2 separate regions of the Homo sapiens genome follow, and region 1 is linked to region 2. The links come from fine-mapping of genetic effects on gene expression. A gene starts in region 2. The other region holds a variant in brackets. All regions are shown on one strand. Distances are from middle to middle.

Region 1 (5,390 bases), 350 kb after region 2:
GTTCCTAAGTATCCAGTGAAATAATCTAAAATTGCATACATTTCTATATTAACAATTTTCCTATGTCATAAAAATATTTCATTGGAAGTGAAGACCAAAAAGCAATGTAAGTACTAAATCTCAAGGATTTATCAACAGAAAACATTATAATTTTATAAAGACTATAAAACTATAATTATAATTATAACCAAGTTGTAATTATATAATTATTTAACTATAATTGCAAATTATAATTATTCCTAAAAATTACTGTAAACTTTCTTCACAAATTTGTGAAACCAAATAATTCTTTCCCCATTACTAGCTTTTCCTCAACTCTCAAAATGTTCTGAACCTACACATATTAACTTTTTCAGAGACTTTTTTTATTTAATAGTGAGCAGAGCTTCCAAATGAAGTTAAGACGTATGACATGTGAAACATGAAACAATTTTTAAAGAGCCAGCCTTCCTAAAGTCCCTGACATATCTTCACTCATGTTATGCTCCACTTCATGGTTGGATTAGACTGGTATGTGTGATCAATAGCCAGTTTCCTGAATCTTCCCATTGTGTCTGCTGTTCATGTGCATAATCGATCAGAGAAATTCCACAAACCATACTACTTTGTGCCTGTGTGCGTGCATATATATATATGCACATAGGTCTGAAATGAGCAATCCTAACACAAGGTTTAGAAATGTCCAATAGCTATATAACCACAGTTTTCAGAGTCATGGATCACCTCACTCATCTGATTTTATTCTGACAAGTTTGTAGGCCTGATTAAGACATAATGATGACACTACCTTCTCCTTCCAACCATTCCATTTTAGCATTACAGCAGTGCTTTGAAAGTGCTCTTCCGATTCTGATATTCCTCCTTATTCATACATCTTATTTACACATTTGGGAATTCACTGCTCCAGGGTCAATGTTATCTCAGATCTTGACGTCTTTCCACAACCCAATCTCAAGATGGTTTTCCCTTCCAGTTGACAACACTGACCTTTCCACCCATTGGGCTAAATAGTGGTAGCAAAATGTTAGGCTAACTTATACATTTCATAAAGTACCTTCTACTGGACAGAAATTTTGTTGTTCATAGACTTAAATATCAGGGGAATGAAAAATTTCTCCCTTTCTCTTCCCTAAATTCTGTACTTTCAGAACCAGAGAAACCCATATATATATCTATATATCATTCCATGACTCTGAAAATTGTAGTTATATAGCTACTGGACATTTCTAAATCTTATGTTAGGATTGCTCATTTCAGACCTATGTGCCTATGTATCTTTTATGAAGGAAGATTTGGATTACAAATCCAGACAATTACATCTGGTAGTATTCTACAAATCAGAGGCCCTTGCTGTGTGTGGCATCTCTCAGAACACTGGATTTCAAACTGGAGCAAAAAGTTGTTAATGTTTTTGTATGTAGTGTCTTTTTTTTTTTCTTTTTTTGAGACAGAGTCTCGCTCCATTGCCCAGGCTGGAGTGCAGTGGCGTGATCTCGGCTCACTGCAACCTCCGCCTCCCGGGTTCATGCCATTCTCCTGTCTCAGCCTTTCGAGTAGCTGGGACTGCAGGCACCTGCCACCACGCCCGGCTTTTTTTTTTTTTTTTTTTTTTTTTTTGTATTTTTAGTAGAGATGGGGTTTCACTGTGTTAGCCAGGATGGTCTTGATCTCCTGACCTCGTGATCTGCCCGCCTCGGCCTCCCGAAGTGCTGGGATTACAGGCGTGAGCCACCGCGCCTGGCCTGTGTGTAGGGTCTTAAAACACTTATCTAATGGAAAGAGTGACCTAAGCCACCCAAAGTTACTGCATCACAGAGTTATCATGACAATATTATAACACAGTACATACAAAATGCCTGATGTAGAACAAGGCATGTAGCAGGTGCTCAAAAATAGATACTGAAGAATTAAGTCTTAGCCAACTTGTCCTGCCACATAATTTAGTTTCCACTGTGACAAGCTGAGGTCTCAGTTCTTTGTCACAGAAGACTTGAGTATATGCTGCACAATGGTCACTTTCCATTATATTTGTTTTTTAAAAGCTATTGGTATATAATTGACGTACAATAAGCTACATATATTTAAGCTATATAACTTGTTGAATTTTAATACACCTTTGAAGCCCTCACCATGCTCAAGATAATTAACAAATCTATTCTCTTGAAATTGTTCTCTTGCATCTTGGTAATCCATTCCTCCTTCCCCTGCCTCCTTCCCTGGAAAATCACGAATCTGCTTTCTCTCACTGTTAAGTAGTTTACATTTTTGAGGCTTTTCTAGAATGGCCTCTAGAAATTGAGGCCCTCAGTCCTTCAACTGTAGGAAACTGAATCCTAACAACCCTTACAGAAGCCTGGAAGAGGACTCTGAGCCTCAGATGAGGTTGCAGCTCCAGCCAACACCTCAATTGCTGCTTGTGAGACACTGAGCAGAGGACCCAGTTATGTCGTGCTCAGATGTGTGACCTACAGAAGCTTCGCGATGCTAAATGCATGTTGTTTTAGGCTGCTAAGTTTCTAATAATTTGTTCTACAGCAATAGAAAAATAATACACTGCCAAAACAGTGACCCTATCCAGGCTACCATTTCTGAATATTTTAAACAGTCCCATTACATTTTAATGAGAAGGTTTTTTTTTTTTCGAAGAGTCCAGTACCATTTTTATGACCACCTTCCTAAACGATAGCTAAAAATGTAAACTGAAAATCTCCTTTATAATAGCATTGATCTGCCGAGATGCTGTAGCTGCTGTTTTATTGTTCACAGAATCTCTCCAGTGCATTTGATCATTCTGATGACTTATCATTTCTCTGCATATGTTAGTCAAGGAAGGATGGAACTGGAGAGTATTTTCCTTT[G/A]AAGCTTGGCATGGGGAATAAAAGAATTATGTGTATCAGAACTCTAGTTCTTTGAATCTCCTTTTCCTCTTTTGTTCTCCTACTCTTAGAACCAAATGAAATTGAAAATGCAAGAAGAAGCCAAAAAGCATCAGTAAGATACACTTGACAATTTTGATTGACACTTCCTACTGCAGGTGAATTCCACATTTCTACACGTATACTTTGCTTCAGAGAGCAAGACCATAAATACTGGCTCTCAGGCTGGTTGGAGGATAATGTTTTTCAAGTTCTAACATTGTGTTATTGATGTAAATACTACTACTATACCACCATTTTGCCATTTTCATGCATATTTTAAATTTTATATACAGTATTTTGGGTAAAAATTAACTTTGGAGTCAACCAGCCTGAGCTCTACTGCCTCTCTCAGTTACTTGCCATGTGCTTGTGTGTAAGTGAGCTAACCTCTCTGAACACCAGTGTATTAATCTGTAACATAACAATCAGAGCTCCCATTGAGTATAGTTGTGAAGATTAAATGAGAAATGTATGTTGTTTACTTAATGGTGATTGACATACAGATAGTAACGTTATTACTATTAATGTATTAACATGTTAACTTATTAATGGTAGCAAGTCTTAAGGTAAATTTATTTTAAAATCTGAACATTAATAAATTCAGTCAAACAAATTCCAAACATTCATTACCTCTACAAGTATTATATGCAAAGTATTGTACAGGAAATAAGCAAAAGTCTAGGCTAGGCAGAGTGGTATTTTTCAATTATAGGTTCTTTTTAAAGAAAAATGTCCTAGTGTATCTGTGTTAATTTGAATGATTTTTATTATAATATTACAAATACACACACACACACACACACACACAAAACCTTGTACCATGTCTTATGAGGTATAATATAAATGATAGGCATCAATTTGTTCATCCCACATGAACACAGTAGTAATAGTTATCTTTTGACTGTCATGCAATTTTTACATGTGATCTCATTTAGTCACCTAATAGCCTTGGTAAGTTCAATGATTATCCCTAACTCTCTGAGTGATTAGAAAAAAAAAAAAATGAAATGTAGCAGGAAAAGGGTTAGGAGAAATATCTGAGCTAGAGATATATACTAAAAACTGATAGTTGAAGATGAAATCATGAATACGAAATTTCAAGAGATAAGAAAAAGGATGCTTACCCTTCTATATATAAGTGAATGGCTAAGACATACATAAGAGAGTCCCATTTGAACCACGGTCTGTCTGACCCAAAGATTGTGCACTTACCACTACTTTGTATTTACAACTGGGCTAGCAGTCAGACCTAGTTTTATGCATAGTGAAATTAATAAGCTTTAGTGTTCCAACACTACTATTCAATTCACAATATAAGGAAATGAATACACTTTGCTGAATAGTTGTGACTCCTAAACCTTGTCAGGTCTAATATTATTTGCCTAGGTGAAAATTATCACTGCCACATTGACTACAATAAAAAGATTTGAATCCAGATTTTAATGCTATGTTCTTTCTATCTGTGTTATCAATGAAAGACCACACAGAAATCAAAAAGAAGAGGGCGGTTTCTAGAAAGCAAGTCTAGAAAGGAAGAGTAAAAAATAAATGTTTATTTGGGAGACACTCTTTTGGCCTTTGTCATTTCCAATATTCTGTTCATAGTTGTCCTATTAGTTTTGTGGTCTACGGAAATATTACGAAATCTTCAAGACCAAGAAATACACACTGTTCCTTCCAGAAGGCCAATTTTCTTTGCCAAACTAAACAGAAGTTCTTCAAAAATGCTCTGCTATGCTGGAATGTATGAACATCATTTCAGTTCAGCCTTGCCTATTCAGTTCCTAAGAAGGGAATCGTTATGAAGTGAGTATGAAAGCCACTCAATGTGTGTAAAGAAGATGAATGGCAATGCTGTCTTTTCAACTTCTCCCATCCATAGTTAAAATGGAATCATGGTTGTCCAGCTAAAGACTTTATTTGGCAGCCTTCCTTGCAATGAGGTGCGGTTATGTGATTAAGTCCTGGCTGATGCAACATGAGCATAAGCCATATAATTGTTGCTAAAAAATCAGTTACTGTTTACTTATGAAAGTAAGTCATGCATTTAAGAGAAAGCAATGTGCATTCCCCTTAATTGTTTCCCATTTCCAGTGGATATAATGTGGATATGATGACTAGAGCTGAAGAAATCATCGTAATCCACAAGGTGGAAATTGTCCACACAGCTGCCTTTCCTACACTGGATGCCTTTCACCTGGGCTGCCATGTGAGCCAGAAATAAGCCATTTTGTTTAAACTACTGTTATTTCAGAACCCTATAACAACGATTGTATCTACAGCCTAATTAATTTTGAATTTGATACTAGAATTGGTGTTGCCAGCTCACACCTGTAATCCCAGCACTTTTGAGAGGCTGAGGAATGTGGATTTCTTGAGCCCAGGAGTTTGAGACCAGCCTGGACAACATGGAAAAACCCGATCTCGACAAAAAATACAAAACTTAGCTGGCCATAGTGACGCATGCCTATG
Region 2 (5,390 bases):
CACATGTGTATAACATATTTTCTACATGTGTCCATTATCTGGGTTATATCCATTAATGGTCAATAAATTAGAAAAATCTGTGGCTGCCCATTGATTCTTAACATTTCAAAAGTGTGTTACCTCCAAAAGATATCTACCCCTAAACAGCAATACAAGAGATTTGCAAAAACACAACTATCTTCCAGTCTTATCAAGCACCATTCTGATGTTCTAATAATTTATTATAATTAGCAAATAGAAGTGTCTGTCAATAAAATCTAATAATTTTCCGATTACTGACTTTAGTCATTACATATATAGGCTGTGTATATGCCTACATCCATATTCCTACATCTAACAGTGCTTAACTGGCAGAGAAGAGAGGCTCATGAAATAGTTGTTGAATTAATAAAAGAAGCAAGACAAGAAGGGAAGGAAGAAAAAGCAATAGAAAAAGTTGGGCTTATTTTAATGAGGGTCATGAAGTTTTCCATCATTGGGCACGTCACCATCCACCTCCATTAGCTTATGAATCTTCCATAGGAAATATGTTGGGGCATGTGGACTTCCCTTAAATGTAAAACAAACAAACAAACAAACAAACAAAACCCCCAAGATATTTAGTAGAAAGACTTTCAGGATTTGCTCTGAAAGGAATAGCTCACCTTTTTGTAAACAGAGGCTTTCATTGACCAGTTTTCCCTCCTTGTTGACATCTATTTTCATCCAGCTATGGAGGTATTTCCTGGCCTTCTTGACCACTACTCTGGAGCCTTGTTTCTGGAGAAAGAGAGAGGCATTTTCCACCTCAAGGAAGCCTTCCTGATCATAGCAGGTCCATCGGGGTGCCTGGGAACAGCGGTCCAAGATGGCTGAGCGGGAGGGGCCGCGGGAAGAGTTGGAGATGGCCAAGCACAGTGCAGATTTAACATGAAGGAGCTTTTCATCCTCAGTCCACATCCACTGCTGGTTCTGGATGGTCCTGTTGCATGAGCCCACGACCACTTTCTCATTTTTGAAAAGACACTGTTGTTTCTGGACATGGACAATCTGAAACCCTTCTGGAAGATGAAAAGCTCATAAAGCACTATGTAGCAAATTATGAGGCCCATTAGAAAACGGAAGAACCCACCCACAAATGAGCTAAATAAAATCACTAGTTTTACTTATATTTTGTTATTTCTATCATTTCAAGTGAACATTCTCATATTTAACACATGTGATTTAAAATTCCAAAGCTGACGATATAAAATGTCAATATGTTACACTTAACTCCCCATCTTTTTTTTTTTTTTAATTTTCACATGCTTTAGGGGAAAAAAGCACACCTCTTATTGGAAAATGAAAGGAAGCTTGGAAAGAAACAAAACCATCCAAAGTATATAGTATATTTTAGCCCAATTAGTTAGATATGCTGAAGTTATGAAATGCTCAGCTCCCTTTTTAACCATTTGACATATTCGATATAAGCTTCCTCCCTTACCTTAAAAAAGCACCCCCTTTTCCAGTCTTTAAATTCACATTGCAGTATTTATATACAAATTTCATAGTTTGAATAACAATTTTTTAAAATTGCATACATTTATCAAAAAATAAAACAAATTTTCCCACTTCTCCAAGCACAACCTCCTAGCTAATTGCAGCCAATGAAAGTATTGATTATCACAAACTAAATTTCCTTTAGTCGTGGAGAGGAGCATTTCTCTATTTTATGACAATATCTACAGTTTTCTCTCAAATACGAATAGATTTTCTAAAAATCATCATGTGCCAGTGTAAGAAAATTAAACATCAAATTGCTAAACATCAGTATTAAAGAGCAAGATACTCTGGCTCAGAAACCATTTTCAATGAGGTTTTACTTAAATTGCCCAGCTCGCTCATGAAAATGTTCAGCCCTCCCAAATGACAACTTCCAAATAAAACACACTACATTTCCTCACCCCCTTTAATCATATTCCTTCAATTTTCTTTCTTCAACACAAAAGAAAATAAAACTATAACCGGGTCGGAAAAAGGCTTGGGGAAAGCCACAGACTGTTATATAATAATACAAACTTTTCCTCGGGGTTCTTTACGCTCTGCTCTAAATGTATCATTTCAGGGGCTGCCTGAAGCATTTGGAGGATGAGAGGAGAGCATTTATTTTCTTTTGGAGAGAAATCTCAACAGTATGGGCATAGCTGGCTCCTTTTATTCCTGCTTTTCATCGTCTTTGGCTAAACTGCCATGGAGACCTGGCCCCTTCTACCTTATTTCAGACACTTCAAAGACCAGGGACTCCTTGGCTAGATCTTGAAGAAATGCCTCAGGACACTGAGGCAGACCCACTCACCTGAGTTCCTGAAGATCAAGCAGGTAAGAATCACCATGTAAAATTCAGCCTCCATTTTCCACTTAGCAACTGTTCATGCTTCGCTTGGGGAAAAAAAAAATTCTCCCAGATAAGAGAAGCAAAGACTAGGAAGGAAATGTGCCTTCATGGTGGGGGGAAAAGTCAGTGACGAGCACTTCCTCCTATTGAATTGTTTGGGGAAGTTTTACACCAGTGTCCTTTTGTCTGTTTCCTTAGAAAGAAGGGATTATGATTACCTCTTTTTTTTAATGTAGAAAATATTCCAGCCTTCAAGAGCAGAGTAAATCTCGTTAAGACCTCACCTACCTTTCCTTTGGCATGTGACTGCTTCTTAACCTCAAGAAGAAAGAAAGGAATTGAAATCTCAGATAATTGAATGTTCCTGAAACATTACATCTCTTCAGGTGATGTGATTCTGCTGAATAAACATAAGCCATGTAATTGATGAGGGTCTATGACAAGTGATATAAAGACATAAACATGTACTGTTTGTATAATGATATGCTGCGAGTCTATTGAGGAAAACCACATAATGATGGCACTTCTAGATCATTATCTCCCAAGTGATGACAATATTACATTTTGAGATCGTCATCTTCACTGGGGAGATGCAGACACTAAAATTAAACCCATCACATTATCTACTTTGGTCTTCCCCAAACAGAGGATGGCGTCTTTCCAAATAGAAAAAAAAAAAAGAATATGCTTTACTCAGTATTTAGTATTAAGAGTTTATTGGCAGTATGAAACAAAGTCAACATTGCTGCATTAAAAATTCATATATGAGCAGAACAGCTAGTGTTTGCTGAGGGTAGTTATTTTAATTTTTTTTGTCTCTTGAAGATTGAAAGCTTTCAGAAATGTAAGGACATACATGGAAATGTCCTTATAAGGAGCCTCGAAAATGGGACAGATTATATCATTCCTGAAGGCATATACCTTTTGTTGAGAGAGAGATTCCAGGTAGATAGCATATTCAAAAATCCCTTCTTAGCAAAAGAGAGACAAGTAGTTAAAACTCTTGATACTTCAGAGTTGCTACAAATTTGTTTTTCCCTTTTAAAGTAAAATGACTCACGATGTGGAAATACAGTGGATAGAGTTCTGGAGCAGAAGCCACCTTTATGCCCAATAATAGAGAGTAAATACATATATACCCAATGACAATCATTGTGCTCTGTAATTGTTTGATAGGAGGGACTATAAATACACATTTAATAGGTAATATTATCAAGACACATTTCCATATAAAATAGTTACTGTTTTTGATTTTTGTTTTTCAAAAACAAAGACTTCTCTGTTAAAAATCCATTATCAATCACTTGCAACTTTAGCAGCAAGATTCTGGTAACTGAGAAAGGTAATAGCACTTCAAAACAGGAACAGTTTAACAGCTGACAGTCCATTCACAAGACAGATTTTGCAAACATTAAAGCATCTAACACATAATACGAATGTCTTCAGCAGCTCATCCAGTCATCACCTGATGACATTTATTACTGAATATTACATACATACATTCTGTGTGGCAGATAGAGTCAGTACAGACAAAACAAAATCTGCCTTAGGCTGTGTGATAAACCTATCATACCTCCATCATCAAAAAACCTTCAGAATAATTTGGGGGATGCTTACAAATGCATTCATATACACAAGGAGCTGGAAATCTTAAATATGTTGCCCAGTCTTCCACAATCCATGCCATACATGGGCTTCAGAGCTTCTCCTTCCTTCCATTGCAGGAAGCTCCTTCTAGAAGCCTTGGGTGGGTAATTTGATTAATCACCCCAAGAGATTGATGGTCTGACAAGTCTTCAATGACTCACTGGACAGTCTCTGCTGAAAGTCTGCTCTCATACAGGCACAGAGCATGGTGCACAAATTCATACTGCTCACTGGTTTGCACCATTCCACCTCTGCAAGGAAGAAATCATAAAATAACTGATTTTGCTAAAATCTTGCAATTTCAAGTAACACAGAGATTTCATCCAAGCTAGGGTATTATGCCAAAGACACATAGAACAGTCGACCTAGTGGTTCTTTTGTTATCCCTCTTACCTGTGTCCAAATGTCTCAACTATCAAAGTTAACATGGTAATGTATATAAAGGGCTTAACACAGTTCCCAGCACACACTAGGCACGTGATTAATTTTTACCTGTGTAACATTACTGGGGAGGTGGTACAGCCTAATGATCAAGTACTTGGATTTGGCATCAGCCAAGGTGAGTTCAAATCCCTCCTCTGCCAATTCTTAGCTGTATGCATCTTGGACAAATTCCTCGAAACCCCTTGCACTTTAGTTTCTTCCTCTGTTAAAGCAGGATAGTAACAGTAACTACTGCTGTGAAGGTTAAATAAATTCATTGTAGCTGGTATATTTGTATTACTTCTCAGGTGCCTCATGATTCATCTCTTGTTAAAATGGTTTATACATTTGGCTTAAAATTGATTGACGGAGACAAACCAAACAAAACTCATCTGCAAAATGTTGCTTTCTACAAGTAAAATGAAGTCTACCTTGGAATGGTTTATTTGAATATGTTGTACAGAAGCAACCTTAGCCTTTTGGTGTACGGGGTGTCTAAACACAATAGTGGGTGGGTCCTTAAATGAGTTGGAAAAAGGGAATTGGCTCTGCTGTGACATTTTCCTCTTGGTTATCACCATTATCATCACTAGCTGCCCAGCACCCTCCTTGTCAATGGATTCATAGAAAGCACTTGCCTTCATGAGAAATAACGGTGCTTCTCATTATGTTTTTATATACATAATACCTATATCACATTTTCCCCCTTCATAATTATGATCCTTTTTTAATTTTAGTTTTTGAGAAAACGTCTCCTTAATTGCTTAGGCTGTTGTGCAGTGGCATGATCACAGCTCAGTGCAGCCTCAACTTCCTGGGATCAAGCAATTCTCCCACCTCAGCCTCTGGTGTAGCTGGGACCACAGGCACCACCACACCTGGACAATTTTTAAATTTTTTTTTTCTTGTAGAGACAAGGCCTCACTATGTTGCCCAGGCTGGTCTCCTGGACTCAAGTGATCCTCTT

Evidence for each region. PIP is the estimated chance that this variant, and not a neighbour inherited with it, causes the effect. A credible set is the group of variants that fine-mapping cannot tell apart.
Region 1: its variant is the best candidate, but not a certain one, in a credible set for the expression of PTPRB in visceral fat (GTEx, PIP 0.76).

What each region holds. Positions count from the first base shown.
Region 1 is chr12:70,989,702-70,995,091 of GRCh38, forward strand. No RefSeq gene overlaps it. Among named protein-coding and RNA genes, the nearest start is that of PTPRR, 72 kb to the left of the region's middle. The variant G/A (reference allele first, on the strand shown) is at 2,859.
Region 2 is chr12:70,635,027-70,640,416 of GRCh38, forward strand. PTPRB (protein tyrosine phosphatase receptor type B) reads right to left here and starts at 2,403. Exons shown (of 34, transcript NM_001109754.4): 1 at 2,315-2,403; 2 at 645-1,040. The coding sequence starts at 2,369. PTPRR (protein tyrosine phosphatase receptor type R) reads right to left here. Exons shown (of 14, transcript NM_002849.4): 14 at 3,053-4,251. The coding sequence ends at 4,158.